Regions from separate parts of the Homo sapiens genome. Here regions 2, 3, 4, 5 and 6 are each reported to be linked to region 1. The links are microRNA targets in miRTarBase. Many come from high-throughput screens and were not tested one by one. Region 1 holds a microRNA gene; each other region holds the end of a gene's coding sequence.

The links. The annotated mature microRNA hsa-miR-224-3p reads AAAAUGGUGCCCUAGUGACUACA and lies in region 1 at 2,346-2,368, shown strand. An mRNA with a match to its seed (bases 2 to 7 or 8) in the 3' UTR can be bound and repressed. Matches are read on the target gene's strand: a 7mer-m8 pairs with bases 2 to 8, a 7mer-A1 pairs with bases 2 to 7 and ends in A, and an 8mer does both.
Region 2: the mRNA of TPD52 is a reported target of hsa-miR-224-3p. Seed matches in the 3' UTR shown: 7mer-m8 at 3,545-3,551 and 7mer-A1 at 3,312-3,318.
Region 3: miRTarBase lists FZD1 as a target of hsa-miR-224-3p. Seed matches in the 3' UTR shown: 7mer-m8 at 2,885-2,891 and 7mer-A1 at 1,641-1,647.
Region 4: miRTarBase lists NYAP2 as a target of hsa-miR-224-3p. Seed matches in the 3' UTR shown: 7mer-m8 at 3,978-3,984 and 7mer-m8 at 5,265-5,271.
Region 5: miRTarBase lists CAPRIN1 as a target of hsa-miR-224-3p. The part of its 3' UTR that is shown has no 7-base or 8-base seed match.
Region 6: the mRNA of DHX33 is a reported target of hsa-miR-224-3p. Seed matches in the 3' UTR shown: 7mer-m8 at 3,604-3,610.

The regions. Positions count from the first base shown.
Region 1 is chrX:151,956,952-151,960,951 of GRCh38, reverse strand. MIR224 (microRNA 224) reads left to right here and starts at 2,294; the gene lies at 2,294-2,374. It overlaps GABRE (gamma-aminobutyric acid type A receptor subunit epsilon), which reads left to right. Exons shown (of 9, transcript NM_004961.4): 6 at 976-1,113. It overlaps MIR452 (microRNA 452), which reads left to right and starts at 1,240; the gene lies at 1,240-1,324.
Region 2 is chr8:80,033,880-80,039,426 of GRCh38, forward strand. TPD52 (tumor protein D52) reads right to left here. Exons shown (of 8, transcript NM_001025253.3): 8 at 866-4,356. The coding sequence ends at 4,237. All of the region lies in intron 5 of TPD52-MRPS28 (TPD52-MRPS28 readthrough), which reads right to left. Among named protein-coding and RNA genes, the nearest start is that of MRPS28, 6.4 kb to the left of the region's middle. RefSeq lists an enhancer at 3,118-3,167.
Region 3 is chr7:91,264,534-91,270,080 of GRCh38, reverse strand. FZD1 (frizzled class receptor 1) reads right to left here. Exons shown (of 1, transcript NM_003505.2): 1 at 1-5,547. The coding sequence starts at 5,200. The coding sequence ends at 3,257. Among named protein-coding and RNA genes, the nearest start is that of FZD1, 2.9 kb to the right of the region's middle. RefSeq lists silencers at 4,904-4,963, 5,054-5,547.
Region 4 is chr2:225,697,031-225,702,577 of GRCh38, forward strand. NYAP2 (neuronal tyrosine-phosphorylated phosphoinositide-3-kinase adaptor 2) reads left to right here. Exons shown (of 8, transcript NM_001371273.1): 8 at 1,287-5,547. The coding sequence ends at 1,514. All of the region lies in intron 5 of LOC105373914 (a long non-coding RNA gene), which reads right to left. Among named protein-coding and RNA genes, the nearest start is that of NYAP2, 300 kb to the left of the region's middle.
Region 5 is chr11:34,097,766-34,103,312 of GRCh38, forward strand. CAPRIN1 (cell cycle associated protein 1) reads left to right here. Exons shown (of 19, transcript NM_005898.5): 19 at 1,538-4,845. The coding sequence ends at 1,602. Among named protein-coding and RNA genes, the nearest start is that of NAT10, 5.1 kb to the right of the region's middle.
Region 6 is chr17:5,439,675-5,445,221 of GRCh38, forward strand. DHX33 (DEAH-box helicase 33) reads right to left here. Exons shown (of 12, transcript NM_020162.4): 12 at 1,243-4,839. The coding sequence ends at 4,531. Among named protein-coding and RNA genes, the nearest start is that of C1QBP, 3.3 kb to the left of the region's middle.

The DNA.
Region 1 (4,000 bases):
TCCTCCAAACCTCTACCACCAAAACAAGTGTGTTGCTTCTGGGTTCCCATCTGTCTCATTGAAGAGGACCATCACTCACCCAGTTGCGCAAATCAAGAACTTTGATGTTCCCTCTCCCTCACCTCCTGCATCTAATCAATCAGCACATCCTGTTGGTGTTTCCTCCCAGTCTCTATCGATGCTGTCTATTTCTCTGCACCCTGTACAGCTTTGACTTCCACCTGCATTAATTTAATTCTGCCTGGATTACTACACTGGCCTCCTTGACAACATGTTGTCCTCACAGAAGGACCAGAGTGACCTAGCTGAAGGGTCACCTAGGTTGGGTCACTTCTTAGTCTCGAATCTGCCGTTAACTCTCATGGATCAATTTGAAATTCCTTAGAATGAACCTCAAGGCCATTCATGAACTGGACCCTGCCACCCAATCCTGTGCACCTCATCCTCTGTGAGCTAGCCATCCTGAACTTTTGTCCTTTCCACAATACACCAGGTGTTTCACCTTTCTATACTGCCCCTTAACCCCTTCAACCTCATTCTTATTGAGAATATTTACTTGAGTTTCAAGATTTAATGGGAATATCACCTGCTTTATGAAGTCTTTTCTGAGTATGTCCCCAAGTGACCTTTATCTACTTTGTTTCCCCGCTGTTCTGTGGACATAGGTTTTTCAGAGCTCCTCCAAAAATCACAGTAGTATACTCACTGTCTTATAAAATTAAATGTGATTGCTTGAGGGTAGGGTTCATGCCTTGCTCATCTCTGTATTTCTGGCCTAGGGCCTGATACTGAGGAATGCTCAGTAAACGCACTCATTGAATGGACTTCAACAATGAGGTAAGAGAGGCAAGGTCCCACAGCTGGTGAGGCCAGAGACAGGACTCCAAGGCATTGTGCAGGCTGACTTCATGCTATTGGAGACCTCAGGTGGGCTTCCAAGTCTCATAAGACCCTCTTTCTCACATTCCTTTCCAGTTTCCTATCCTGAGAATGAGATGATCTACAAGTGGGAAAATTTCAAGCTTGAAATCAATGAGAAGAACTCCTGGAAGCTCTTCCAGTTTGATTTTACAGGAGTGAGCAACAAAACTGAAATAATCACAACCCCAGTTGGTAAGCGTGCCAGGGCTTGGCGGAAGTCCAGGAAGGTGGTAGGGATGATTGGAGATGGCCATCCATACAAATGCTTTGCAGTCATCCCGTGCAAACATTGTAAGACATGGCTCCTGTCTTATAATTGCTAAGCACTTACAACTGTTTGCAGAGGAAACTGAGACTTTGTAACTATGTCTCAGTCTCATCTGCAAAGAAGTAAGTGCTTTGCCAAGCTCCTTGAGAGGTTAGGTAAGTAGATAAAGTTCTGCTGCTGTCGGAATGTGCAGCTGGCTTTTTCATGCAGACCCTTCAGTTTCGAGGTTACAACTCTGACCTCTTTGGATGACTTTGGGGAATGGAGCTCGTGTGAGTTCTCCATACCCAGAACCAATCCAGTCTGGTTGAATGGGAAGCAAAGTCCATTGTAGTGGGAGGTGGAGGCTAGAGTTCTAATGTCAGCTAGTTTAAGGCTGGGAAAGTCTGGAGGAAGTTACAGCAGCTACACTGGCTGCTGCATTGACATTTATCTTAAAGGAACAAGTCTGAAAAGCACAGATTCTTATCAAAGGCTTCATGGTGGATTCCACATAGACATAGTGGCCACTGGTTTTCTGACCTTTTCTCTGACAAAGACTAAAGGGGAAGGTCCTGGGTATCTTACACTTCAGCTCCCAATTAGATGTGAGCACCTTCACTTATGTTCCTAGGTGACCTGAATGAGGAGCCAAGGGACCTCCCCAGGGTAGCTCCCAGAGCAACCCTGGAAACACTCTTCACACATCCTGACCAAGTTCAGGGCAGTGAAGGCACTGCCCTCATCGTTTCCAGAATGTGGATGGAGCCAGTCACCCAACCAGCCATTTGTCGTGAGAGGCATCTTGTTCTGCTACCATGTGACTAGGCAGAAAATCTGCTTTTGTTTCATTTATTGAGTCAGTCTCTGGATGAGGGAAAGCTCATGCTCATGTGGCTAGAGCTTTGCTTGCACAGTATTAGGCAGGGGCAGAGGGCTGGGCTACCTTAAAAATACTTGCCCTTTTTCTTGGGGACTCTGGGGAAGCGGTTTTACTACCTTTGACTTGGGAGCCTTGCTCTTCTGCCAGCTAACCATGGGCCTGCCTCTTGGTTTTCTGCACCTCAGCTTTTCCCGGATAGGTGGGGACCCATCATCAAAAGTGACAGAGAAGATAAGGCCCAGGGGCTTTCAAGTCACTAGTGGTTCCGTTTAGTAGATGATTGTGCATTGTTTCAAAATGGTGCCCTAGTGACTACAAAGCCCCAGAGCCAGCATCATCATCAAAGCAATGACAGTAGGTAAGCACCAGACCTCCTTGGGAGTGAGGAGGATTCTTGAGGAGAAAAGAGGTCTTCTTTCTCCTCTGCTGGAGACTAGTTGATCTGGAGACGTGGTTCCTTCAATGTCAGAGTTATCTTTGGGACTGGTCTCAAACTCTTCCAGTTGGGCCCTGGGGCAGGTCTCTCCATCTGGAGCATACTTACGTGCTCGGCGATTAAGGGTTCAGAATGCAGTGGTAGCCTGCTACTCTGGCCATCTTGGACCTTGATCCAGAGAATCTCTGCTTCAGGAGCTTCTAAGAGAGTCCAGCCCTGCCTCCAGAGAGAGGCTTGCCCTTCACTGATGGCTGTGGAGCCTCTGATGGAATATTATTGCTGGTCAGGAATTCACTGTCTTACAAGGAGGTTTCCTTCTTCTCTAGACAGTTCTGTTCATCAAAAAACTCTCCCTGTTCTTCTGAAATTGGAGTCTCTGGAAGTTCCACACATTAAGCTTAGTTCTTTTTCCTTGGAACTGTCCAGGTTACATTAGTCCAGCCACTGTTTCACAGGACCGAGATTAAACGATCAACATCATCATTCCCGGCATGGATCATAGTCTGTTGTAGTCTACATAGCCCTAGTTTATTTTTCTTCCCTTATTCTTCAAAGCTTTGGGTCCATTCATTCTTCTAGTCCCAGTCCTCTGGACATGGTCTATTTAATTGTGTCCCTCTGACACTGCAGTGACCAACCATGATCTGGTCAAAGAGGATAAGAGTTTGAGCAGAAAACCATCTTTAGCATATATTTTTTTGCTTTGGTTCATCAGCCCCAGATATATTGTTTTCCTTACCCGTGCTTCTCTCACTCCTCAAGAAGAAGAAAGTGTGTGTTAGCATCTTTCTCTTGTCCTTCAAGACAAATTGGCATCTCTTGACGAGCGGAGAAGGTTCTTTTTTGGCCAGAATAAATAAAATTAAAATAGAATCATCCAACAGAATAATAAATCTTCGTGCAACAAGAATATATTATATAAACCCAGCAATTTTGCAGGGCCTGGGTATAACTAATTAGAAGTGTCTTAAATTGCAGTCAAGATCCCACGGCAAGAGGACTTTTGATAAATACATTCTGGCCAGTAGGCAAGTGCGAGGGTGGTCCGTGCAGCAGCTCTGGAGGAGTTCTATCCCAAAGCTATACTCAACACACAGGTTTCCCACTGACAACAGGTCGCTCCCTTGCCTTCTTCCAGAAGAATCTGAGAAGCTTTGCTCCTTGAGTTTCAGTGCTGCCAAGGTGAGTACGAAAGGCTGCTCTTCTCATTCAGCTCCAGCCCACCCAGACCTGCTGGGCAGTTGATCCACTTTCCAAAATAGGAGGACACACGGACAGGTTAGTGTTCTGGTCTGCTTTACAAAGCTGTTGCCTGACAGGAGCAAGAGTTGCTGAGTGTCTGCTGGGTTCCAGGCTGTTCTGAGCTTGGATGGGCAGGGGCTAAGCCACAGGGCCTGCATGAGCCCTGCCTTGAAGGGACTTAAAAGACGACCTAATTATAGGCCTAGGAATTTTACAGTATTGCAACTGCAATGTGATGCTGAAAGTGGAAAATGATGTCCTGGGCTCAGAG
Region 2 (5,547 bases), not on the chromosome of region 1:
AATAGAGTTCTCGCTCTGGGTTGTGGGCTCTACCTAAAACTGGCAGCCTGGCCCCCAGGCTTCAGGCTGTCCCTGGCTTGAGGGTGGGGTTTCAACAGGGACCCACCCCTTCCCTCCTAGGAACCTGCCTCCTGCCACCATCAACATGCCATCCAGAGCACCCAGGCTGTCCACACCAAGCTACCCTCAGCCCCTGGCCACCCTCCCATGCTCACTGGTGCCCATAGTTGGGAGGGGGCCGAGGTAGCAGGAACCTGACATGTCAGCACCACCCTGAGGATGCACACACCTGGCCAGGTTGTGACAGCACCCAAGCTCAGCCACAACTTTGCTCCGAACTGGAGCAGGCACTTCCAGGCCTGCATGGGCAGGGGACTTTCCAGGCCCCCGAGAGCACACAGATGCCTGGATCTGGAGCTGCAGCTGGGTGGCTGCAGCTGCACCCAGGAGCACAAGCTCCTGCCCTGCCAACATGGTAAGGCAGGGTTCCTGCTGGGATCACCTATTGCCGGCCCCTGCCACTTCTGCAGAGCCTGCAACCCCCCAGCCATGCTTCCCTTGCTGCAGCTGGTGTCCTTGCAGCAGCTGCTCAAGGAGGGCCACCACCATCAACAAGTCTGGAGATACCGGTTGGGAAGCTATTAGTATCACTCTAAAAATAGTCATTTCACCCATAGAAATGGATAAGATCATTAAGGGGATCATGTAGAAGATAACAACAGATAGACAATAGCATTTAGGAGCTGGAAGAATTCTAATACTAAAAAATAGTCAAAATGGAAAATAAGAACAGAGAATCAATTCTAGAAACCAAGGAGAAACTTTAAAGCATGCTGGAGAGTGGTAAAGTGAAAGATCACGTCCATTTACAAATATTCAAACAAAACTGTATTTGGCTTTTTCTATATGATAGAAGAACCACAAAATTAATAAAATAAACTACCAACCAACCTCAGTAACATCAAAATTACATGAGAGCTGGCAAGAATTTTAGTTGCCAAATAGCATTTATTTGAGTACAAAATCCTGGCAGGCAAAAGCACTTGCAGACCCGACTCTCTGAGAACTTACAAACAAAAAGTGAAAAGCTCTTAGTTCATTTTGAGTCAGAACAATAAGGAAATTATGAAATCTAAGATGTGCAGGTTTACTTAAAAGTGATAATGGTTTATATTAACTGTGGCCCACACAGGGTCTCTCTAATCTAATGAAAACAGGACAGTCACTGAAAATAAGGACTAATCAATGGCCAAATGTTTCTTCACTATGGGCAAAAATGTGATTTCTTCATCTGGGCTTTAAGAGCTATAAATAAAACACATGGCCGGGTGCATGCCTATAGTCCTAGCTATTTGGGAAGCTAAGGCAGTAGGATTCCTTGACCCCAGGAGTTGGAGGTCAGCCAACTCTAAACAAACACAAACATCATTCTGACAAATGACCTTAATGTAGGATCTCTTTGGACACATCTTCAGCAAGCAGTCATTTAATAAATGCCTTCTGATAGGCAGAATGTAGCTGCTCATGGCTCTTTAAGTATCATATCCAGAATATGAAGGGTTTGGAGAGAAGTTGCATAATGGACTTGCCCCTTTCCTCAATGGGCAGGTAATGTATACAAAAGAACCCATACCCAAATTATAGCATTTTTATTTTCCAATACTATACAAAAAATAGACTGTGCATATCTTAACAGATCCAGATCCAAATTAAATACTTTTTTTCTATTTCAAACTATTCTAAGTTGCTAAGGTGATAATCCAGTTTTGAGCTCTACTCTCTTCCACTGACTACTTGGCTCTCATAAGCATAAGAATTCTTGCCCTATTTCCCACAAACTCCATAAATTGACATTTCTTTTTGTAAGAAGGGGATATTTTCTTCTACACTTGAGTCCTTACATCTGTGAGATTTCATAAGTATCTGAGATTTCACACTCTTGCTATTTTCTTAGTGTCAAACACAAGAGGAACCAGGAACTGTTTCTGGCATTTCTACTAATTACTATGTTTCTCATTCTTTAAATATCTGTGAATTCATAATATTGAATCTGCCACAAAAACCATTTTGAATATTTCTAAATTCATGTTTTTTTCTAAATCCATCCTCACTCTTTTTAATACTTCTTTCAAGGGGCAGAGTACTTTACAGTAGATTACTTTGTTTCTTAGATTAAGTATAGGTAGATGTCTAGAAAAGTGATTCTCCATTATTTTCTTTCACAGCCACCCCCAATACCCACCTTCATCCACTCACCCCACTTGCCACCCCCATTTCTATCACTTTTCCCTTTTTGGGCAGAAAAGAGACTTGAGGGTATTTCACTCATCTAAAGAAATTGCCACTTTACTCCATTTTGCCTTGTTGAAAAGTTAGTAGCAGGGCAGGATGCTCAAGAAACAATGTGATCAAAAGAATATGTTTGAATTTTAAGAAGTAGACTAGTTCATAGAAAAAATAATTTAACACTTGAGTAAGCACAATATTTCTATAGAAAGACAGACTTCTACAGATCCACTCCTCTGAGAAAATGCTTCAACAGCCTGTGCCTTAAAGCCCTTATTTAGAATATGTTAATATGATACCATTAAGCAATAATTTAAGGATGGTTAAAAAAAAATTTTTTTTTTTTAAGCATAGACTCCAGTTGATTCGGTACAACAAGCTGTTTCCAGACCACTGGTCTCATAATAAATATTGAGACCTATACTACTGATAGATGGAATTTATTAAGCTTTTCACATGTGATAGCACATAGTTTTAATTGCATCCAAAGTACTAACAAAAACTCTAGCAATCAAGAATGGCAGCATGTTATTTTATAACAATCAACACCTGTGGCTTTTAAAATTTGGTTTTCATAAGATAATTTATACTGAAGTAAATCTAGCCATGCTTTTAAAAAATGCTTTAGGTCACTCCAAGCTTGGCAGTTAACATTTGGCATAAACAATAATAAAACAATCACAATTTAATAAATAACAAATACAACATTGTAGGCCATAATCATATACAGTATAAGGAAAAGGTGGTAGTGTTGAGTAAGCAGTTATTAGAATAGAATACCTTGGCCTCTATGCAAATATGTCTAGACACTTTGATTCACTCAGCCCTGACATTCAGTTTTCAAAGTAGGAGACAGGTTCTACAGTATCATTTTACAGTTTCCAACACATTGAAAACAAGTAGAAAATGATGAGTTGATTTTTATTAATGCATTACATCCTCAAGAGTTATCACCAACCCCTCAGTATAAAAAATTTTCAAGTTATATTAGTCATATAACTTGGTGTGCTTATTTTAAATAGTGCTAAATGGATTAAGTGAAGACAACAATGGTTCCCCTAATGTGATTGATATTGTCATTTTTACCAGCTTCTAGATCTAAACTTTCAGGCTTTTGAACTGAACATTGATGACAGTGTTCATAGTTCAACCTACTGAACATACAGTGTGCTTGATTCAGAATGTTATTTTGTAGAAATTAAAATTTTAACCTGGTGAAAAATAAGTTGATATAAGTGGTATAATAAACAATACACTGAAATGGTTACTGTCACAAACGGTGCTAAATAATGATATAGGAGGTTCCACTCTCAAGTCACCTAGAAGTTTGATTACATATTGTTACTTACAAAACTATAATAAATTGGATGCACAGCTGTTTACTTCAGTCTGGTGTCTTCAACCAAAATATGTACCTTATACCAAAACAATGCTTATTCCAAAATATTTTTTGTAGCTAGTAGTTCTTTCCTTGGAGGTAAAGAAAATACACCCAAACTTTTAATTACCAGGATTCAGAATATTTAAGAGAACAATTTTAGTTAAGAATCAAATATACAGAGATTCAAAGAGGGGAAAAAAAGGAAATATTATAGAAGACAAAGGTCAAACTGGCATTCCAGATCTGGAGCAATTTTGTAAAGCAGGAAAACAACTATGACAATCTGTAGCTTCTTAGATCATTATAGTGAATGTCCCCATTTACTATAAGTGTTTTTATAATGGTGTTTCCTAAATAAAGGAACATAAATGTACACTAAAGGGTGTTTCCCAAGAATAGAGGTGAAGATATTTTCATTTTGTTTAACCCACAAACTATTTGGTCAAAGGAATATGTAAAGCTAAATAAAAGCACATCTGGTAGAAATTCATGGCAATGCATGTTGACAAGATGTGCTTGGACCTCGCTTGCAGCATCTGGCAGTGGGTAGCAGAACAAAGGTAGGAATCTCACAGGCTCTCCTGTGTCTTTTCTGGAAGAGGCTCCGTGGTGGTGGCACTAGCATTTGCAGCCGAATTCAAGACTTCTCCAAAATCACCACCAGCAGGCTTGGTTCCCCCTACTTTAGACTTAAAAAAAAGTTCAAAAAAGGGAAAGACATTATGAAACATAAAACTAGCTGATTCTGCATAAAGTAACTCTAATTCACTTTCAAGAACAAATACATCAGCAACCTTATAGCTCAGTGATTATTATATATGTATGGAATTTAGTATTGTTGCAATGTTCAGTGTGGTTTTATAGTAAAACTCATGCATTCTCCCTTGCTGAAATATTCAGATTGGTAAATTCTACCCCTTCCCCTTTCCCCCTGCTCCTTGTTCTTCACAGGAAGTCTGTCTAGAAAACTTTGTAAGGTCTATTATTTTAAAGTACCTAGTGAACTGTCTGTCTCTACACTTGCATAACATTTTGTATTGCATCGAATTGCTCATTTAGCTACACTCATTCAAGAAATATTGAATACAACATGGGAAAGAAATATATGTTTTTTTCTCAGTTACAGTATAAGCTTTCTAACCCTTTAATACTTAAAGTGTGGTTCAAGGACCTACAGACTCAACATTACCTGGGAGCTTATTAGAAATGCAGGATCTCAGATATCCTTTCTACCCCACCCAACTCCAGCTACAGAATTGAAATCAACACTTGAACAAAATCCCTGAGTTGTTCATGTGCACATTATAGTTTGTGAAGCACTACTCCAACCTATCTGGCCTGAAATTTTGCCAATAAGCATTTATTTCAATATATCTGCCTTGCATTTGTATAATACTTTTTCAAAACCCTTACACATGTCACTTTATCCTTTTCAATGCTAATCTGTATATGCTCTCTCACTGTTACACTGTCCAACAGGACAGCTAACAGTAAGAAAACAGTCAGTGACCATGGATGCAAGAAGCTTATAGTGGGTTTGAACTTGACCTTGCTCTTAGCTCAATCTTAATTGAGTGGTCACAGACCCCTTATTTTCACTCTCATTCTTTTTGATCTACCATCCAAATTGTTTGGGAAATGCGAATAATGTGTGTTCATTGTTTATTAAATTTATTAAAACACATTCCTTAATTATAGTATCAAATCTCCTTGCAGTTCAACATGTCTAAAACTGAACTCCTTCCCCCGACAACTAGCCCCTTCTCTATTCTTTTTTAACACTTTATATGGCAATAGCACCTACCTAGCTGCCCCAGCCTGACACCTGGGGTTGTCCTGGATTCTTATCCAACTTGTTCTACATCCAATCAATCTTTTTT
Region 3 (5,547 bases), not on the chromosome of region 1:
CCTATTTTGCCACCAGTATTAAAAGAAATAAAAGAATACACTGGTTTTCTATATGCATCATCATTTAGAATAAATTGTTTTCTAAGAATAAAGGCTGGTGGTGACTTAAAAATGTCTTCTAAAGCTATTTAACCACAGCATGTAAAACCTTTCTGCATCAAATTTATAGTTACATCATGTTAAGGACACCTCCAATAAGACTGCTTTAAAATATAGTTTTGGATAGCAATTAATGTCAAAAACATGTTTTTCCAGAAATTATCTAATTGAACTACTTAGTGAGGAGATATGTGTGAATTTGGCCTAAGAATACTATTTTTTTGTGTATGTCTATACAATAAACCCTCTATCTACTATATTATGTTAATGTAACAAAGAAAAAGGGAACACAAAATTGCATCTTGCTACTTAAAATCAAATGCTACATTTTTAGTAAGATCTAATTTTTTTGATTTTCCTTAAAATGAATAATGACTTATAAGACAATTGCATTGTAACAAGGAAAGTAACTCTATTGTATCAATGATCTTCATTTTAGTCCCTTGTCATTTTATCACAAAATGTTTTCATGGGAAAATTTAGTAAAGATATTTTTAACCTGTAAAGGTATTTGAGGTTTTCCATCTAGCATTTTCCATTTCTCATAACCATATTTCCATATTATGAAATGTAAGTAAACTTTACATCTCTATTTTATAAAAATTAATGCATATATACTTATGTGTATACTTATCTATATATACACATATATACACCCATGCATAAATTCTGACTAAGAGTAGACCAACTAGATAATTTATCTGGAGAAGGTTCCTTGAACGATTAAAAAAAGGGGTCTTCAGAAGCAAACAACAAAACAGCCTTACAAACCCAATTGCTGTTTAAAATGTTTATGAACACATAGCCAGTTAACCATTTATTGATTGCCTATTTAGGGTTTTGTAATATCCAAGATTATGGAAGAGATAAGACAATACCTCTAAAAAATATGAGAAAGGTGATGATTTAAAAATAAACCTCCATAATATAAAAAGTCATGTAAATTTATTCCCTGAAAGAAAAGAAAGCTTTAATATTAAAATTAGAGTTCTCTTTTAATCCTCTTTGAGTAAAGAAATAATTTGCAAACTTCTATTTTCTACTGTCATGAAAACAGATCTTTTCTTGGGACTTCACAAATGTCAATCACAACAATGCAAACAGAGTAATTCTTTGGAAAGACTGATCTGAGGGTTTAAGGGTAGACTTTTTTCATTGAATTCCTGAATTTTTACACTGTGGGATTGGCTATGAGACACCATAAAATGTAAAATAGTTCAGACAGCTCAAGCTCTATTATTTTCAGGCACAAAATCCATATAATTTTGTACAAAACTTTGAATTTTTTATTTGTGAAATTAAAAATATGGTATTATATATATATAAACTTCTATTCCTCTATAAATATAGATGATTTTGTGATAGTGAACAGAATAAATGTATACCAAATTCAAAGACCAATATCATTTTAGCGTATGACAGACATAGATAAATTTAGGTCCTAAGTACCGGCATTTTGATAAATTCTTAAAGTTTAAAACAATACAATCAGGAGGATTGCTTTTCTCCTCTTCTTCACAGAGAACTAAAGTGAATATTTTTAAATGGCTTTGAAAGATTTACATTTGACACATTTCTGTAAATCCAAAAGAGGAGCACACAGGATTTAATGCAGTAGACCTGCACACATTTTCCCTTTAGCATGCATGCCCATATTTTGTTTATTTCAGGCGCTATCTCCCCGTCAATTATTCCACCTTCTTTACCTCCTGAAATCTTACCAGGTTATTATTGGTGGTGTGAATTGTTCCCCCCTCAGAATGTGCTGCTGAATAATAATCGTAATAAAATGTTGAAAGTGTACAACTTTTACATTTTAAAGTTTCTGATATATGTCTAGTTATTTGATTAAAAATAAGAAAATAGCACTTCATTTTGAGGAAGTCCATGACACTGAAATATCCTTCAAGTTTTCAATTTCTGTTTACGTTTTGCTGTCTTGTTAAGGAAAGCAAACATCAACTCCTTAACAAAGCTTTCCAGGTGACCTCAACATTTCCATTTTACAGACCGGTAAAATCTAAGCGCAGGCTGTCTCATTCTCAAAGGCAAGGTTGCCAGGCATCCGTATGCAATTAGAATTAACATTTTATAACCCATATCTTCAGTCTCTTCCAACCCACACAAAGCTTCATGCTTCTTCCCAAATCTCAGTAACCACATCTTTCCATGACGCTGGCCAAACCCATACCAGGTTTTAGACACTAGAGAATGAAATGAGCTCACCCCTCAAAAATTAGACTTCAAAAAGTTTGGCATTGGTTATCTCACTCACCCTGTAACCAACTAAGGTGGGAGAAGGGAGTGTCTGGGCGTTGAAGGTGACCGTGGAGGGAGGCTGAGACTGCCAGCGCCCACACCCGTGGGCCCCCATGAAGTTGGAGGAAAGTTCTGGACAGTTAAAAATCCAGCTTCAGGAAGTCGAAGGGACGGGCCTTCGCAATCCACCGCCGAGCAAGGGAGGAATTGTAATGTATGGGGGCCCTCCTCCAGATTTGGAAGGTTTGTGGAGTTCTGTACCTTAAGAGCCCCTACCTCAAGCCAGGAAAGAAAGGGAGGGGACAGAAGGAGGGGGAGGGGGCAAAAGGAGGAGGCGGGAAGTGACCCTGGCAGCGCAGCCCTAGTCGCACCCCGCAGTGCTGAACTCGCCCCGGAGCTGGCGCCCAGCCGTCCCGAGCACCCGTGGTAGGGAGAGGCGCGCGAGGACGACCAGGAGCGCTGTGCGGTTGCACACCAGTTTTAGCTCCTTTGCAATACTCCGAAAAGGGCAAGAAGGAAAAGCCTCAAATGGTTAAACCGCCCTAAATAATTAAAAACTTTTGAAAAAGAAAAACGCGTGATCGGTCGTCATTTAAATACAAATATACTTACAAAAATCTTACACAGGCTATTTACAATCATAAAAGCGAACAGTCCTGGTACCAGAGTGTGAGGGCAAGAGGTCTGTCCATCCTCCCTCTGGCAGTCGGGCCCTCGTGTCCTTTTGCCTCAGGGACGGAAGCTTTTGCAGGAGCTGAGTTGTTCAAAGGAGCCTGCGAAAGAGAGTTGTCTAGTGAGGAAACCTCGAGATGTCAGGATTGGCACGAACTCCACGGCGCTGGCTTTGGGGGATCGCTGCGCCCCGGCCGAGGCCTGGGCATGGGCTGAGCCCCGGGTCTCAGACTGTAGTCTCCCCTTGTTTGCTGTTGGTGAGCCTCGTGTAGAACTTCCTCCAGGAGTTGAGGGTCTTGCCGGACCAGATCCAGAAGCCCGACGTGATGCCCACGATCAGCGTCATAAGGTACTTAATCATGAAGACCGTGAAGTCCGGGCTCATGGGCGGGTGCGGCGGGGCGCCTCCGCCCGCCTGGAGGTGAGGGCAGGGGATAGCGTAGCTCTTGCAGCTCTGGGCCACCCAGCTGCGTTCCCACTGGTCCCGGAAGGCCTGCTCGTAGAAGTAGCAGGCGATGACGATGGTGGCTGGCACAGTGTACAGCACGCTGAAGACGCCAATGCGCACCATGAGCTTCTCCAGCTTCTCGGTCTTGGTGCCATCGTGCTTCATGATGGTGCGGATGCGGAAGAGCGACACAAAGCCGGCCAGCAGAAAGGACGTGCCGATAAACAGGTACACGAAGAGGGGCGCCAGCACGAAGCCACGCAGCGCGTCCACGTTGTTAAGCCCCACGAAGCACACTCCGCTCAGCACATCGCCGTCCACCTGGCCCAGCGCCAGGATGGTGATGGTCTTGATGGCCGGCACAGCCCAGGCGGCCAGGTGAAAATACTGTGAGTTGGCTTCGATGGCCTCGTGGCCCCACTTCATGCCAGCCGCCAGGAACCAGGTGAGCGACAGGATCACCCACCAGATGGAGCTGGCCATGCTGAAGAAGTAGAGCATCATGAAGAGGATGGTGCAGCCCTCCTTCTTGGTGCCCTGCGCCACAGTGCGTGCCCCGTCCTCGGCGAACTTGTCATTACACACCACTCGGTCTTCCAGGAGGAAGCCGGCGATGTAGGCCACGGCCACGGCCGTGTAACAGCCGGACAAGAAGATGATGGGCCGCTCCGGGTAGCTGAAGCGCCGCATGTCCACCAGGTACGTAAGCACCGTGAAGAGCGTGGAGGCGCAGCACAGCACTGACCAAATGCCAATCCAGGTGCGCGAGAAGCGCAGCTCCTCGGGCCCGAAGTACATGAGCCCATACACCTTGGTCGGCTCACAAGGTGCGCCGCAGTCCTTCTCCCCCAGGAAGTGGTAGTTGAGGTAGGAGGGCACCTTGAGGGCGCGCGGGCAGGAGAACTTGCCTCGCTCCGACGCGCCGGCGCCCCCCGGGAAGCCGCCACGGTGCCCTCCGCCGCCGTGCTGAGGGTTGCTGGTCCAGAACTCTGGAAGCAGCGAGGGCGTCGGGGTGCCCTTGTCGGACGTGTTCTGGCCCACGCACAGCTCGCCGGCGCCGTGCACCGGGAACTTCTCACACTTGAGCGTGTCTGGCCACTGGAAGCCGAACTTGTTCATGAGCGCCTCGCAGCCCTGGCGCGCGCGCTCGCACAGGGAGCGGCAGGGCGGCAGCGCCTGCTCTAGCACGGTGCACACGGGCGCGTACATGGAGCACAGGAAGAACTTGAGCTCAGCGGAACACTGCACTTTCACTAGAGGGTAGAACTGGTGCACCTCCAGGCCCGCGTCCTCCTGGTTCGTGTGGCCCAGCAGGTTGGGCATGATGGTCTGGTTGTACGCGATGTCCGTGCACAGCGGGATGGAGATGGGCTGGCAATAGCCGTGGTCCGGGACGGAGATGCCCCGCTCGCCGTTGTACTGCTGCCCGCTCTGTTGCTGCTGAGGCGGCGGCGGCGGTTGCTGCCCCGGCCCGGGCCCCTGGCCTGGCCCCTGGCCCGCCGCCTGGGCCCGGACCCCCAGCAGCAGCGGAGCCTCCAGCAGCCAAAGCAGCAGCAGCAGCTGGCGCGCCAATCGCCGGGGGTCAACTGGCGGGCGGCGGCGGCCACCGGCGTCCCCGCTGCCCTCCTCCGCCAGCCGGGCCGAGAGCGCCCCGGCACAAAGTTCCCAGCTCGCGCCACCGCCGGCGGCCCGGGACTTCTTAGGCGCCTCCTCCTCAGCCATACTTTCTCGGCTCCTCTCTTGGCGCCGCTCCGCTGGGGCTGCCAGGGGCACGGCCGGCGGCGGCTCCCCCTGCGGCCAGGGAGACCTCTGCGCGGGTGCCCTCCGTCGAGCCCAAGCCGCTTTCGGCCCGCTCCCCCGGCTCCTGTTCTGCGTACCGCAGCCGCCGCCGCCGCGGAAACTTGCGATTCATGAAGCGCGGGCGGCGGGGAGAACCCGGGTGGCTAGGGCGCGCCGGGGTCGTGTCCCGCCTTCCTGGCCCTCGGCTCGCTGGCTCCCGGCTGGCGGCGCCGCGCTAGTGGCCGCGGCCCCGTAGAGAGCGCAACTCTCCGCAGCCCAGCGGGCTCGGC
Region 4 (5,547 bases), not on the chromosome of region 1:
GCACTATTTTAATGCTTCAAGTCATACAGTAGATTTGTTTAAACAATTATGTGGAAGCTTCCACAACCTAGCTGAGCTCATGGGCCCAATTTTATTGCCGCCCTTGTGTGACAGACGCAACATGCTAGCTCTGTTCCAAAGAACAGTTACTGGTAGACATGGTGCCACATATACCTGGAAGCAGTGGTTACTTGTCCAGTAATATGTACATATGTGTATGTATGTATCAATATATAGTCCACACCGAGCTTTCTTCTGGTAACCAAACTGACCTCATGAATCCATTTTTCTAAATTTTTGAAGTTGATTAGAATCCTTGTCAGTCTGACTACAGGGACCAATGGTTCTAATGTAGACATTTGCCGAAGCATCAAAAACTATAGCAAAAACTTCTTAGCAGAAGAAATATTTAAGCATTTACATTCTAAGCATATGGTGTGCACTTAAAATCATTTTGATGAGATGAATTATTAAAAATATTCTACTACATTCTGTTTATAAATAAACCTGTTTAAAATTATTTCAAGAATAAAAAAACATTCATTCAAATCTTTAAAACATATCACATTAATATTAGACCTCACTGAAAAGTAATTCCAATAATTGAATTTAAAAATATGGGCACAAATAAGACAATGGAGCCAACATAAAGTTACAGGTAAATATTTGGAAAATTGCTTAAAAGTGTAAAAGATTTAATTTTCATATCATGAACTTTCAGAACATATTGAAAAATATTCATGCCCAAATTGTTAAATATCGCGATGTTTACTAATTTAAGTACAAAATTTGTTTATAGTTTCCATTCTTTTATTTTTGTTTTGTAAGAATTATTTCTTAATTTATCTTCAGAGTTTTTGGACTGGGCATAGTAGCTCACATCTGTAGTCCCAGCACTTTGGGAGGCTGAGGCGGGAGAATTGCTTGAACCCATGAGTTTGAGACCACACTGGGCAATATAGAGAGACCTCATCTCTACCAAAATTTTTTTTAAAAAATTAGCTGGGCATGGTGGTATATGCTTGTAGTCCCAACTACTGGGGAGACTGAGGTGGGAGGATCACTTGAGCCCAGGAGGTTGAGGCTGCTGTGAGCTGTGATTGCATCATCGTATTCTTAGCCTGGGTGAGGGTGAGACCTTGTCTAAAACAAGACAAAACTAAAAAGAATTTTAGAAGAGATATAGAAACAGCTGACATTGTTCTAAGAAACTACTAGCACAGTGCAAAAGAAATATGCTTTCATTCCATTTTTTTCTTCTGTATTCACTCTTTCTTTTTTGCTAGGTGGCATGCATGCAGTGGTTTCATGGAGACCATACAATGCTTGAGATGATTGAGAAAAAGCGTTGCTTGTGCAAGGAAATAAAGGCTAGACAGAAAACGGAAAAGGGCCTTTGCAAACAGGATAGCATGCCTATCTTGCCCAGCTGGAAGAAGAATGCAGGTGCCAAGAAGTACAGCCCTCCACCGTATTCTAAACAGCAAACGGTATTCTGGGATACTGCCATATGAGTGTGTGCAGGATGGTGTGAGCTCTACATTTCTTAATATGAAGAGGGAGGTCGACTCGGTCATATGATAATGAACTGTTACATATCTTTTCTGTGGGAGTGGAATGCCACGGGAAGCTGTGCCTATTCGTGGCAAGTTCAAGATAAAATGCATATGTCCTTGCAATGAAGGCACACTTATTTATCCCGGATTATTTTGAATCCAGAAGATATTAAAATGTAAATATTTTACTAGTTTATGGGTGACATCTGAAATAATACACATTATACGTATATAAATTACAGAAATATCAAGAGTTTACTATATGATATAATTTCAGTATTAACTGGTTTGTTATCTCTTTTATATGTAATCCCTTGATGCCTTTTATTATTAATTTTTGCATTTAAAATGTTTTTTTTCCCTTGCCCACATTTGGTTTCTGTACAAGAGCTCACAACTATAAATCATGTTCAATCACGTAATATATGATCTGGTGCTAGTAACGTAGAAGTTGAATATCATATTTGTTAAGAGCATCTGTGCTTTTTAAGTTTCAAGGGTTTGACAGGAAATGAATGCAAATGTGATGCTTAATTTGGACGTCCAAGTTACATTGACAACAATATTTTTGCTACATTGGCTTTATAAGAATTTCTCTTTAGCATCCTCTGGCAATGGTTAGGCTAACCATTAGTCTGACTTAGTAATAACTAAGCAATGGTTAGTCAGACTCCAGAGAAAGTTACTAGGATATATTGGACATCCCAGCAGAAAACATTTCCTTCAGAAATGACTTTAGGGACATGTGTCCTTGCATCATTGATCTGATTGGAGGAGACCAGGGTTCACTGTGACAATGGAAGGAACAAGGAATTAATAGCTCAAGAGCATGACTGCTTTCAAGAAAGTGGGACCAGTGGCATTGTAGCCACCATAATCACTATATTTAAGTAACTTTTCATGTGTATGCTTGTTTCCCCAAGAAAATGAGAAATAAACATTCAACTAGACCAGTTTACATATTTTAATACACTAAATGCCAATCTTTCTAAAAGTTTAGATCTATTAATAAAATATGTATTTCTTGTTAATTTTTTCAAACTGGTTATCACCACATTTCTGGGTCATAATCTTCTGTATGTGATCATCACACCCATTCTTACTGATTATGACACCATGACCAAAGAATTATGATCATGTTTCATTTCATTTTGTTTCAAGAAAGAGACAGGAAATGCAGGGGATGAGGGATGGGGTGGATTCAATTTTATGTAGTGGTGAAATTTAAGTTAAAAAAATCATATATATCTTTTAAGAAGAACTTGTTAGTTGAATATAAATATTGCCACGAATGAATAAAAAAGAAACTATCGCATATATTTTGTATATTTAAATTACTATTTATGCCTCCTAAAATTGATAGTATGTGGTTCTTTGTTAACAATCAATTTAGTATTATATTTCTGAGAGAAAAGATGTGTTTTTGAAGTTATTGTTATAGCAGTTTTTCTTGTAAGGGTATTGACAGCAATAGTTCAGTGCTGCTCAATAAAACCAAATATAACAGGAGTTAGAGAATCTTTGTAATCTATATTGCTACAAACCTAGTAATGCTTTATCAGTAATAGTTTCTTTCAAAAGCCTTTTCAATGTTATAACATGATTTTCTAATGTTTTATAATTAATGTGTATTTTGATGTCCAATTCAAATTCTGAAAAAATAAGGAAAAAGGTAAGTGGGAGCAGTGTATGGTTGGTGTGTCTGTGAGCGTGCGTGCATGTGTGTGTGTGTGAGTGTGTGTGTACATGAACGAATACTCAGTGGGAGAACTGTATACATAAAACGCTTACTGAAGTTGCAGGTTCTGCTTGTATAATTGAGGTGGTAGAAAACCGGGATCACAAATGCAGGAAATTAGGAAGGGATCTTAAGTAGCTTAAATAAAACCCGCCAGCATGTTTCACCAGCTATAGATTATGTTTCAAACCAAATAATCTATGAAGCACAAATCTAAGGGTGATGAAAATGTGTTTAGATAAAATCAGAATGGAAATAAAATGTGTTTATGACCCAAGTTGTTATCCTGATTTAAGTTATTATGACCACATATACTCAAGCCTATCAGTCAGACACAAGATACTAATTCTCAGCATGTCTATGATTACGTATATATTCAGGCTCAGTATGGTGATGATTAACCCTCCCTTAAAATTTATATTTAGGGAACATCTTTCTGTGGGGAGATGCAAGTGTGTTTTTCAGATGCGTATCTTTCCCATATCACTCTGATTTAGGCAGAAAGTTTATTTAATGTTGGCCATTTGTCAAGAAGGAAACAAAAGTACTAAAATGATCTGTGTTGGATTAAACCATTCCTGTTTGTTCTATCAAACTTATGCTAGGGCCAGGTTTCATGCACTCCTTTTTCAAATGCATTATTTTCTGAGGCGGTAACTTGTTTGAAAATTTGACCTTAGGCAACCATTTTCATTTATTTCCGCAAATCTCTACTTAAGTGGAAAGTGACTGAAAGATCTGGAAAAGTGGCTTCACTGAGATTTGACTCAAGAACTGTTATTCTGTGCCTATACGATTGTCCACTGTGGCAATAATCATTCCATGATCAATTTCCTTTTTGTGTAGTGTTTCTCTAAATGGAGAAAAGGAGATCATTAGTATGTAGAGAAAAATAAGCTGACTCTCTGAAAGTAATCAACTGGGATACTTCAATATATTAATTTGGTCAGAATATAGCCTACAGATAGCCAGAACACTATGCCATGATAAAGCTCATATTTCTAGCAGTGCCAAAGAACAAATCATATCATGGCCTGGTTATCAGGTTGAAAGAGCTCATACTTATGAAAAATGGTCCTTTCACAGCAAATTTCATAGAAACAGAATTTTATTGGATGTCACAAGATGCTTTTATATGTGAAACACTCCTTAGCAGAGAAGATATAAATTTCTTTAGAATTGATGAAAAGAAAATATAAAAATCTGCATTTATTTCAATCGCAGAAGCCAGCATCCTCTGAGGTATAAGAGTAGTCTATTACATAAACACCGCTCACATCTCTCCCATGTTTATGCTACTGAAGCAAGCTTGGCGCCAAATGTGATGGATTTATGTAAATGAAGGTTAATACTCACCCATGTAAAATAATTAGAAAAGTAAAACAAAACGTCCGGAGATTTAAATTTGTAGTTTTAAAGTATTATATATTCAAATACATGCCAATTGTCTGGAGACAACTAGATACAACTTTACTTTCCAAAGTAGTGACAAAATTTTCTTTGAATGCTTCTAGAGAATAAAAGAATGTTTTTATTACTACATTTTGTTGGTAGGTCTTGCCTATACATGGAATTTAGTTTGATTCTTTTGAGCAAATCTAGTGACTACGTCAATAAAACTAAAGCCATTGGGTTATTATTTTAACTAATAAAATAAGACATCAACACAATGCACGTACAAATGCAATTTTAATATCACTTCCATGTTAAGACAAGTAGAAAAGAGCTTGTAAAATAACTACACTCACATGTGAAATTAAGAAACAATTCCTACGATTTAAGCAGTAAGTTATCCGAGATGAGAGGGAATTCACACTTGCAAAGAAATAGAAGTAGAATAGATAGCAATTCACAATTCATTGTGTCCCAAACTTAAGTGGAAATAAAAGAAAAATGGTACCTATAGCATTTAACATTATGTCACTACATCTTCCATGTATACAAAATAGACAGCTAATTGTAGAATGTGGACCATTTTTTACTAATCTGTTATTTAACAGTTGATTATTGAGCAAACTTATGTATCAGGCATTTAAAAATTCTAAAGCACTTGGTGTTAAACATTGAAAAAGATGTTGTCCCATCCTTCAAGGAGCTTAATTATGCAATCATCAATATTTTCAAAATAAAGCCAATTGTTTTTAAGAAGATATACAATTGTGTTTACATATGGCATTCTCTTTTTTTTCAGATCAAGTGTATAGTCAAGGTAAAATTCTAAACATACTAAACTTAATGTCTAAGTATAGAATA
Region 5 (5,547 bases), not on the chromosome of region 1:
TATTTTGTGGTGGTGATCCTAGCTCCTAAGTGGAGCTTCTGTTCTGGCCTTGGAAGAGCTGTTAATAGTCTGCATGTTAGGAATACATTTATCCTTTCCAGACTTGTTGCTAGGGATTAAATGAAATGCTCTGTTTCTAAAACTTAATCTTGGACCCAAATTTTAATTTTTGAATGATTTAATTTTCCCTGTTACTATATAAACTGTCTTGAAAACTAGAACATATTCTCTTCTCAGAAAAAGTGTTTTTCCAACTGAAAATTATTTTTCAGGTCCTAAAACCTGCTAAATGTTTTTAGGAAGTACTTACTGAAACATTTTTGTAAGACATTTTTGGAATGAGATTGAACATTTATATAAATTTATTATTCCTCTTTCATTTTTTTGAAACATGCCTATTATATTTTAGGGCCAGACACCCTTTAATGGCCGGATAAGCCATAGTTAACATTTAGAGAACCATTTAGAAGTGATAGAACTAATGGAATTTGCAATGCCTTTTGGACCTCTATTAGTGATATAAATATCAAGTTATTTCTGACTTTTAAACAAAACTCCCAAATTCCTAACTTATTGAGCTATACTTAAAAAAAATTACAGGTTTAGAGAGTTTTTTGTTTTTCTTTTACTGTTGGAAAACTACTTCCCATTTTGGCAGGAAGTTAACCTATTTAACAATTAGAGCTAGCATTTCATGTAGTCTGAAATTCTAAATGGTTCTCTGATTTGAGGGAGGTTAAACATCAAACAGGTTTCCTCTATTGGCCATAACATGTATAAAATGTGTGTTAAGGAGGAATTACAACGTACTTTGATTTGAATACTAGTAGAAACTGGCCAGGAAAAAGGTACATTTTTCTAAAAATTAATGGATCACTTGGGAATTACTGACTTGACTAGAAGTATCAAAGGATGTTTGCATGTGAATGTGGGTTATGTTCTTTCCCACCTTGTAGCATATTCGATGAAAGTTGAGTTAACTGATAGCTAAAAATCTGTTTTAACAGCATGTAAAAAGTTATTTTATCTGTTAAAAGTCATTATACAGTTTTGAATGTTATGTAGTTTCTTTTTAACAGTTTAGGTAATAAGGTCTGTTTTCATTCTGGTGCTTTTATTAATTTTGATAGTATGATGTTACTTACTACTGAAATGTAAGCTAGAGTGTACACTAGAATGTAAGCTCCATGAGAGCAGGTACCTTGTCTGTCTTCTCTGCTGTATCTATTCCCAACGCTTGATGATGGTGCCTGGCACATAGTAGGCACTCAATAAATATTTGTTGAATGAATGAATGAATGAGTACTGGTGGAATACTCCATTAGCTTTACTCTTCTTTTAGCTAAGAGAACATGAGCAAATTTGCGCATGACAACTTCCAGGACAGGGGAAACTTGAACACTGAAGAATTGACCTCTTAAGCCTAATAATGTGGTGACAGGCTGCCCACATGCTTCTTGACTTCAGATGAAAATCTGCTTGAAGGCAAAACAAATAATATTTGAAAGAAAAATCAAATGCCATTTTTGTCTTCTAGGTCGTGGAGGGCCCCCAAGACCCAACAGAGGGATGCCGCAAATGAACACTCAGCAAGTGAATTAATCTGATTCACAGGATTATGTTTAATCGCCAAAAACACACTGGCCAGTGTACCATAATATGTTACCAGAAGAGTTATTATCTATTTGTTCTCCCTTTCAGGAAACTTATTGTAAAGGGACTGTTTTCATCCCATAAAGACAGGACTACAATTGTCAGCTTTCTATTACCTGGATATGGAAGGAAACTATTTTTACTCTGCATGTTCTGTCCTAAGCGTCATCTTGAGCCTTGCACATGATACTCAGATTCCTCACCCTTGCTTAGGAGTAAAACAATATACTTTACAGGGTGATAATAATCTCCATAGTTATTTGAAGTGGCTTGAAAAAGGCAAGATTGACTTTTATGACATTGGATAAAATCTACAAATCAGCCCTCGAGTTATTCAATGATAACTGACAAACTAAATTATTTCCCTAGAAAGGAAGATGAAAGGAGTGGAGTGTGGTTTGGCAGAACAACTGCATTTCACAGCTTTTCCAGTTAAATTGGAGCACTGAACGTTCAGATGCATACCAAATTATGCATGGGTCCTAATCACACATATAAGGCTGGCTACCAGCTTTGACACAGCACTGTTCATCTGGCCAAACAACTGTGGTTAAAAACACATGTAAAATGCTTTTTAACAGCTGATACTGTATAAGACAAAGCCAAGATGCAAAATTAGGCTTTGATTGGCACTTTTTGAAAAATATGCAACAAATATGGGATGTAATCCGGATGGCCGCTTCTGTACTTAATGTGAAATATTTAGATACCTTTTTGAACACTTAACAGTTTCTTTGAGACAATGACTTTTGTAAGGATTGGTACTATCTATCATTCCTTATGACATGTACATTGTCTGTCACTAATCCTTGGATTTTGCTGTATTGTCACCTAAATTGGTACAGGTACTGATGAAAATCTCTAGTGGATAATCATAACACTCTCGGTCACATGTTTTTCCTTCAGCTTGAAAGCTTTTTTTTAAAAGGAAAAGATACCAAATGCCTGCTGCTACCACCCTTTTCAATTGCTATCTTTTGAAAGGCACCAGTATGTGTTTTAGATTGATTTCCCTGTTTCAGGGAAATCACGGACAGTAGTTTCAGTTCTGATGGTATAAGCAAAACAAATAAAACGTTTATAAAAGTTGTATCTTGAAACACTGGTGTTCAACAGCTAGCAGCTTATGTGATTCACCCCATGCCACGTTAGTGTCACAAATTTTATGGTTTATCTCCAGCAACATTTCTCTAGTACTTGCACTTATTATCTTTTGTCTAATTTAACCTTAACTGAATTCTCCGTTTCTCCTGGAGGCATTTATATTCAGTGATAATTCCTTCCCTTAGATGCATAGGGAGAGTCTCTAAATTTGATGGAAATGGACACTTGAGTAGTGACTTAGCCTTATGTACTCTGTTGGAATTTGTGCTAGCAGTTTGAGCACTAGTTCTGTGTGCCTAGGAAGTTAATGCTGCTTATTGTCTCATTCTGACTTCATGGAGAATTAATCCCACCTTTAAGCAAAGGCTACTAAGTTAATGGTATTTTCTGTGCAGAAATTAAATTTTATTTTCAGCATTTAGCCCAGGAATTCTTCCAGTAGGTGCTCAGCTATTTAAAAACAAAACTATTCTCAAACATTCATCATTAGACAACTGGAGTTTTTGCTGGTTTTGTAACCTACCAAAATGGATAGGCTGTTGAACATTCCACATTCAAAAGTTTTGTAGGGTGGTGGGAAATGGGGGATCTTCAATGTTTATTTTAAAATAAAATAAAATAAGTTCTTGACTTTTCTCATGTGTGGTTGTGGTACATCATATTGGAAGGGTTAACCTGTTACTTTGGCAAATGAGTATTTTTTTGCTAGCACCTCCCCTTGCGTGCTTTAAATGACATCTGCCTGGGATGTACCACAACCATATGTTACCTGTATCTTAGGGGAATGGATAAAATATTTGTGGTTTACTGGGTAATCCCTAGATGATGTATGCTTGCAGTCCTATATAAAACTAAATTTGCTATCTGTGTAGAAAATAATTTCATGACATTTACAATCAGGACTGAAGTAAGTTCTTCACACAGTGACCTCTGAATCAGTTTCAGAGAAGGGATGGGGGAGAAAATGCCTTCTAGGTTTTGAACTTCTATGCATTAGTGCAGATGTTGTGAATGTGTAAAGGTGTTCATAGTTTGACTGTTTCTATGTATGTTTTTTCAAAGAATTGTTCCTTTTTTTGAACTATAATTTTTCTTTTTTTGGTTATTTTACCATCACAGTTTAAATGTATATCTTTTATGTCTCTACTCAGACCATATTTTTAAAGGGGTGCCTCATTATGGGGCAGAGAACTTTTCAATAAGTCTCATTAAGATCTGAATCTTGGTTCTAAGCATTCTGTATAATATGTGATTGCTTGTCCTAGCTGCAGAAGGCCTTTTGTTTGGTCAAATGCATATTTTAGCAGAGTTTCAAGGAAATGATTGTCACACATGTCACTGTAGCCTCTTGGTGTAGCAAGCTCACATACAAAATACTTTTGTATATGCATAATATAAATCATCTCATGTGGATATGAAACTTCTTTTTTAAAACTTAAAAAGGTAGAATGTTATTGATTACCTTGATTAGGGCAGTTTTATTTCCAGATCCTAATAATTCCTAAAAAATATGGAAAAGTTTTTTTTCAATCATTGTACCTTGATATTAAAACAAATATCCTTTAAGTATTTCTAATCAGTTAGCTTCTACAGTTCTTTTGTCTCCTTTTATATGCAGCTCTTACGTGGGAGACTTTTCCACTTAAAGGAGACATAGAATGTGTGCTTATTCTCAGAAGGTTCATTAACTGAGGTGATGAGTTAACAACTAGTTGAGCAGTCAGCTTCCTAAGTGTTTTAGGACATTTGTTCATTATATTTTCCGTCATATAACTAGAGGAAGTGGAATGCAGATAAGTGCCGAATTCAAACCCTTCATTTTATGTTTAAGCTCCTGAATCTGCATTCCACTTGGGTTGTTTTTAAGCATTCTAAATTTTAGTTGATTATAAGTTAGATTTCACAGAATCAGTATTGCCCTTGATCTTGTCCTTTTTATGGAGTTAACGGGGAGGAAGACCCCTCAGGAAAACGAAAGTAAATTGTTAAGGCTCATCTTCATACCTTTTTCCATTTTGAATCCTACAAAAATACTGCAAAAGACTAGTGAATGTTTAAAATTACACTAGATTAAATAATATGAAAGTCTGGTTTTCTCACTGTCCTTGAACGCAGTCTGCTTAAGTTGTTAAAAACCATCCAGCAAAAGCTGTAGGTGAAGAAGTGCTACTGGTGTGAAGAGAGGAAAAGGTTTATAAAAGCAATCTGATAGCCTCATCTAATACACTTCTCAGCTTCTGCTACTAATATCCTACTTTTAACAAGCTGTTCTGAAGCTTAATCCAGTTACATAAGCAGTACGGCTGTTTTGAGTAGAGGCAGTGGAAGATCAGCAGTTTGTTCCTGATCATCTAGCAAAGGCATTTGTGTATTAATGCTTATTTGGAAATACCAATTTTAAGTACTGTGTTTAATAGGGAGACACACTGTATTAAGCAACTAAACTAAGGCTTTATTCAGCAAATTAGGGTATCCTTTGCCCAGCATCATGCCAAGCACTAGGCATTTAGTGGTGACAAAAATTACTGTGGTTTCTGCTTTCATTGAACTGTCTAATCAAAGACTGATGACACCAAAGTGTAGCAGATGCCATGATGGAGCAATGTGGTTGATGGCAGATATTAAAGCCATGACTGAGTGTATACCCTAGTTAAAATGATCAGGGGAGACTTAACTGAAAGGGGTAATTGAGCTAGATTTGAAGGATGAGGAGTAGCAGACTAGTCAAAGAAAGGGAGAGAAGAACATACCTAAACATCTGATCACCAGTGACTGAGAAAGTTATCAGGA
Region 6 (5,547 bases), not on the chromosome of region 1:
AAGGTCCCACCATATACCCTGGGGGAAGGGATGCTGATGTCCAGAAGCTTCCATAAAAACCCAAGAGGAGAGGGTTTGCAGAGCCTCTGACAGCTGAATACGTAGAGGTTCCTGGAGGGTGGTGGCCCAGGGTAGGCAAGGAACCTCGGAGCTTCTTCCCCATTCCCCACCCTGCTCATCTCATCTGTATCCTTGGTCATATCCTTTATATGAAACCGGTGAATGTGTTTCCCTGAGTTCTGTGAACTGCTCCAGTGAGTTAACATAATCCAAAGAGGGGGGTCGTGGGAACCCCAACTTGAAGCGGGTTGGTCGGAAGTTTCAGAGGCCCAGACTTGCCATTGCTGTCTGAAGGTGGGGGCGGTCTTGGGGACTGAGCCCTCAACCTATGGGATCTGACACTATCTCCAGGTAGATACTGTTGGGATTGAATTGGAGGACACCCAGCTGGTGTCTGCTGCTTAGTGTGGAGGGGAAAAACCCAAACCTTTGGCCACATAAGTCTTCTGTGTTGATTGTTGTGTTGTGAGAGCAAAGGAAAGTCTGAGGGTTTTCCTGAAAGAGGCCTTCTAGAACCTTTTTTTCCACCGGCTCGGAACTCATGCTTGTGCGCACCCAGCCCATATGCTTCATTCTCTTTTCAACAGGAACCTCCTAGCGTTGCTGCTTTAACCAGGTTAAACCCAACCAGACTGTGACATCCTCAAGGGCAGGATCCATGATTAATTTTTGTGACCTTCCCTCTCTGCACCTCCAACCTTGCATCCAAGTTCTAATGGAACATCATTTTTCTGGGGACAAGAAGCCAGCTTATATCATTTAGATAAGTCCAGAGGCTTCCATAAAAACCCGAGGACAGGGTTTGGAGAGCCTCTGATAGCTAAATACATGGAGGTTCCTGGAGGGTGGTGGTCCAGGGACGGCATGGAGGCTGGGAGCTTCTTCCCCATTCCCCACCCTGCTCATCTCCTTATCTGTATCCTTGGTCATATCTTTTGTATGAAACCGGTAAATGTGTTTCCCTGAGTTCTGTGAGTTTCTCCAGTAAATTAATATAACCCAAAGACAGGGTTCAGATTTATTAAAAATCAACAATCCTACCTTCCCAGGATATACAGGACATATAAGCTACTAAGAAGGTATGTCTTACTAACTCATGGTAAGACTAACACTTAATATTTTCTAAATAATTTTCTATGAATAATGGAAAAGAGATGCAAGAAACAAGCCACACACATCATATACAAGATTCATTTTTAATGGATTTGATCGTCGGGTGCAAATTTGAGCATTATTTACAAGAGCTTTCTGTAGAGTTATTTCTGTTCAAATAAAACCAGACTCTCAAAATACAACATAAGCCTGAACCTACTTGATTTTTTTTTCTCCCTCTAGTTACCAAGGAATATCGTATCTCAGATGCATGGCCTACTATCACACTGGTCTTTAAAGAAAAAAAAAAATGCATGGCCACAGTTCCAGGCAGTTCCTGGTAGCTGGATTTAGTGGATTTATATATGACAGTACAGTACATCATCAGTTTCACCCACAGGGCAGAACTTGCCTCCATTCAGGCATCTCTTTACAACTGGCAGCAATGCAGCATTAAGGGTTTTTAGCCAGGACCTGCTGTTTGCAGTCCTGCCCCTTGTAGTGTTACTCTGGGTGTTGCACACTCCATGATTACTAGAAGACAAACACCTGAGGCATGCAATCTGCTTGGAGTGCATCTATTTACATGAAGCTGCTCACGGGAGCTGGTGATTCTTCCAGATATGGGTTTCGTAGGTTGGCAAAGAGTTATCACACCATCAGAGATTTTACCAATGGAAAGAGAGTAGCTGAAGATTATATTGCAATGTTATTGTGAAACATTTAACTTTCTTAAGTTTAAAGTGTACTATCTCCTGCAGCTCAATATAAACAACGATGTATTTCTTTGTAGCAGTATGTGGAGTCAGAATGGGTTTTCCAATCTGATTTAATCCCTGAGCAGCTATGTTAAAAGTTAACTTTTTAAAAAAGCCCAATAAAAAACTAAATACTGTATTAAAACTCTACCACAATGTTACAGGGATAAACTTATTTCTGTACAGAAACATTAAAGCTACTTAGAAGCTGTTTACATCCTTTGCCTCTCAGAAAAAAAATATACATTTCCGGAAACTGTTCAGGTACTTAAGCTGGACATAAATTACCCCAAGTTTTTTCTTTTTCTTTCTTTCTTTCTTTTTTTTTCTGAGACCGTCTCACACTGTCGGCCAGGCTGGAATGCAGTGGCGTGATCTTGGCTCACTACAAACTCTGCCTCCCAAGTTCAAGCAATTCTTGTGCCTCAGCCTCCCCGGTAGCTGGGATTACAGGCGTGTGCCACCATGCCCAGCTAAGTTTTCTATTTTTAGTAGAGACGGGGTTTTGCCATGTTGGCCAGGCTGGTCTTGAACTTCTCAAGCAATCCACCCACCTCAGCCTCCCATCCCAATGCTGGGATTACAGGCATGAGGTGATCCGCCCGCCTTGGCCTCCCAAAGTGCTGGGATTACAGGTGTGAGCCACTGCGCCCGGCCACCCCCCAATTTTTTTTTTTTTTTTTTTTTTTTTACCAGCACTATGAATGATTAAAAATACAATATTTTTCTTACTAAGTAGGACTAAACATTCTAATCCCCTACTGGAAAACAAAAAACAAAAAACAAAAACTGGAAAACTTTTCAGAAAGTCAGCAGTGGTAACAAGTCAGTAAGTGGAAGAACTGGTTCAAAGTTTAAGAATTCAGTAAGATAAGGTATATAGGAGCTGTCAGATCTTCTTTTGCCCACGTATAACCATTTCTGACAGACAGCCCTAAACACTAGCTGAGAGCTTGACTGCACAGGACCACGGCTAGTGTTGGAAATAAAGACTGAGCCGGACTTGACATACACAACTCCGGACAGATGGGACCCTGGAATGGGGCTGCTCCATCAGGCCACAGCTTCCAGAAAGAGAGCATCCATGATCTCTGAAGAGCCTCTTGGGCAGCTTGGCCCCTGGTTATAACTATGATTCATTCATTAAGAAATGACAAAACACCCCACAGATGTATTTGGACCAAGTAAGCACAATAAAAGAGCTAAATCACGGCTTCTTCTAGGGCAAAATATTATCTGGGGAAAGATTACTTGCTTCTGATAATTAAATAGCTAAGAGGAACCGTTAGTGCCTTTTCTCTGCTCAGAATATCAGAACAGGAACAGACTGTGGATATCCTCCAATTCCCTCTGACAATGAGGGTTAGAGAGAGGTGCCTAGCAGTTAGAAAGCAGCAAAGCCAGATTGTCCCAAGTCCCTACGAAGAAGGAAAAAATATCATAGAAAATTAATAAGATGCAAGAATAAGTGTTACAGCTCTAGCTCTTTTAGAATTTGTCCAGCAGGTCTTCTAGACTTCACTGAACTGCCCCCCACCCCCCCCGCCCACACACCAAAAAAGATACAAGAATGTAAGCCCAGATGTGGTGTGGTATCTGGCATAAGCCAATGTTCTCTGGGTTCTAGGTACCCCTCTCCCCTCCCCCACCCCCACCCCCTCTGACCAGGGGACTGCCCGAAAAGAAACAGCTGAAATGGTACACAGTCACTCCTCATGCCCGCATGTTCACTGGTGCCCAGTTAGAGAGAAAAATGGCAACTGTGTATGTGGGAGTCACCTACACACACAAAACACTGATAGGTCAGTTTCCCATGTCTACACGTGACAGGATTCAGAAGGTACAAATCAACCTTCACCCAGGAAGCTTACATGTCTCCTGAAAGCACTGACAGGGTCACGCACTGAGGACCAGGAGGCTCCTTTACTGGTCTCTGCTTGGAGACAGACACAGAGTGGTCCACCCTGAGACACAAGCGTTCAGTAGGGATCGCCATCCCAGGAGGTACGAGATAACAGCACCTCCCTCTGGAAACTTCTACAGAAGTCAGTTTTGTTTTCTATTTTAAAACTGCATTCAGAGAGACATTAAACAAGAACTAAGGGCAACATCCAAGCTCCGCAACCTCCTGTGGCCCTTCCAGAAAATCTCCCTCAGTCACAAGAACTTGGGATATTGCTGTACTTCACATCATATGGCAAGCAGTAACATTCAGCCTAACGGCTCCCAACTCACTGTACGTGTGTCGTGCGTGCTCCAGGCATAGTTCTGGGTACTTTCCATTCCTTTTCTCTAAACTTTATGAACCCAATTTTATAAGGATTATTATTATTACTCCCATTTGGCAGATGAGAAAACTGAGGCTCAGGTGTTAAATTAAGTCAAAGTCACCCAGTAAGAACCAAAAGCATAATTTTGAGGTTTCCAGGTACAAATGATATGTCCATGTCTATATGGTTCAGTCCCAGGAGTTGAGCAAAGATGCTTTCACGCTCCTGGAAGTCAGGCACCTTCAGCTGATTCCAAGGCTTCTCTAAGCGCCAACCTGGAAGCCTGCTGTAAGGACAACTGTAGTCCAAGCTCCCAGGGACCAGTGATTCTGGCGGCATCCTGGGGCGGCTCAGTTTCTGGCGGTTCTCAGCTTCCTCCTAAAGTACTCAGGGGCAGCCTCGTACAGCCACTGTGCATCTATGACGCAGAGGTCCCGCATGTAGCACTTGTTGGTGTAGAGCAGCTCAGTGTACACGACGCAGGCCGGCTTGCAGTGGAAGAGGACAGACGACGGGTGGATGGCCACTGGCTGGTGGGTGTCCGTGGTGGCATAGGTGCCATCTGGCTGAAGCTCGGCGGTGCTCATGAAGAGGCTGTGAGCCAGGCAGCGGCGGACACTCTCCACGTCTCCTCGGGATGATGCGATTGGCATTGACATCTGTTTCGGGAGAAAGCGAGGAATGGAGCCGACCCCACACGTAAACACTGGTCAGCACTACACAGCGTGTTGGGGCAACTGGACCCACTGGGGCAAAAGCAGCCCACATTGTGAGCCTAACGATGTGGATTCTGACATTCGGAGGTGGTCACCAAGGATCAGCAAGGTCAGGGGAAGAAGGCCCAGCTGGAGGAGCACGGACCAGAAACAGGGAAACTACCGCCTGTGAAGGTAGGGCTGGGAGGGAGGTGCTCACATTAGCCACCAGACCACAGGCAGGTTGGGTGACCCACCCCTCACCTAAATTCCATCAGGACGGCCCGGAAAGGAAAGGCCCTTCCCTCTCGCTTTGACCATCTCACCATCTCCTCACTCCGATTCACCCACCTGCTGCTGCCAAGCTAATCTACCTAAAGCACAACTCGAATCACTCTTCATCCACTCAAATACCTTCAACAATGTCTCTACTGCTCCTTGCAAAACAATGCAAACTTCCCGTGGTGAAGCCACGAAGGAGCCACCCTGAGCTGCTCGCCTGTCTTTCCTCTCACCGCTCTTTTTCTTTCTTTCTTTTTTTTTTTTTGAGGCTGAGTCTCCCTCTGTCACCCAGGCTGGAGTGCAATGGCGCAATCTCAGCTCATTGCAACCTCCACCTCCCAGGTTCAAGCTATTCTCCTGCCCTAGCCTCCCAAGTAGCTGGGATTACAG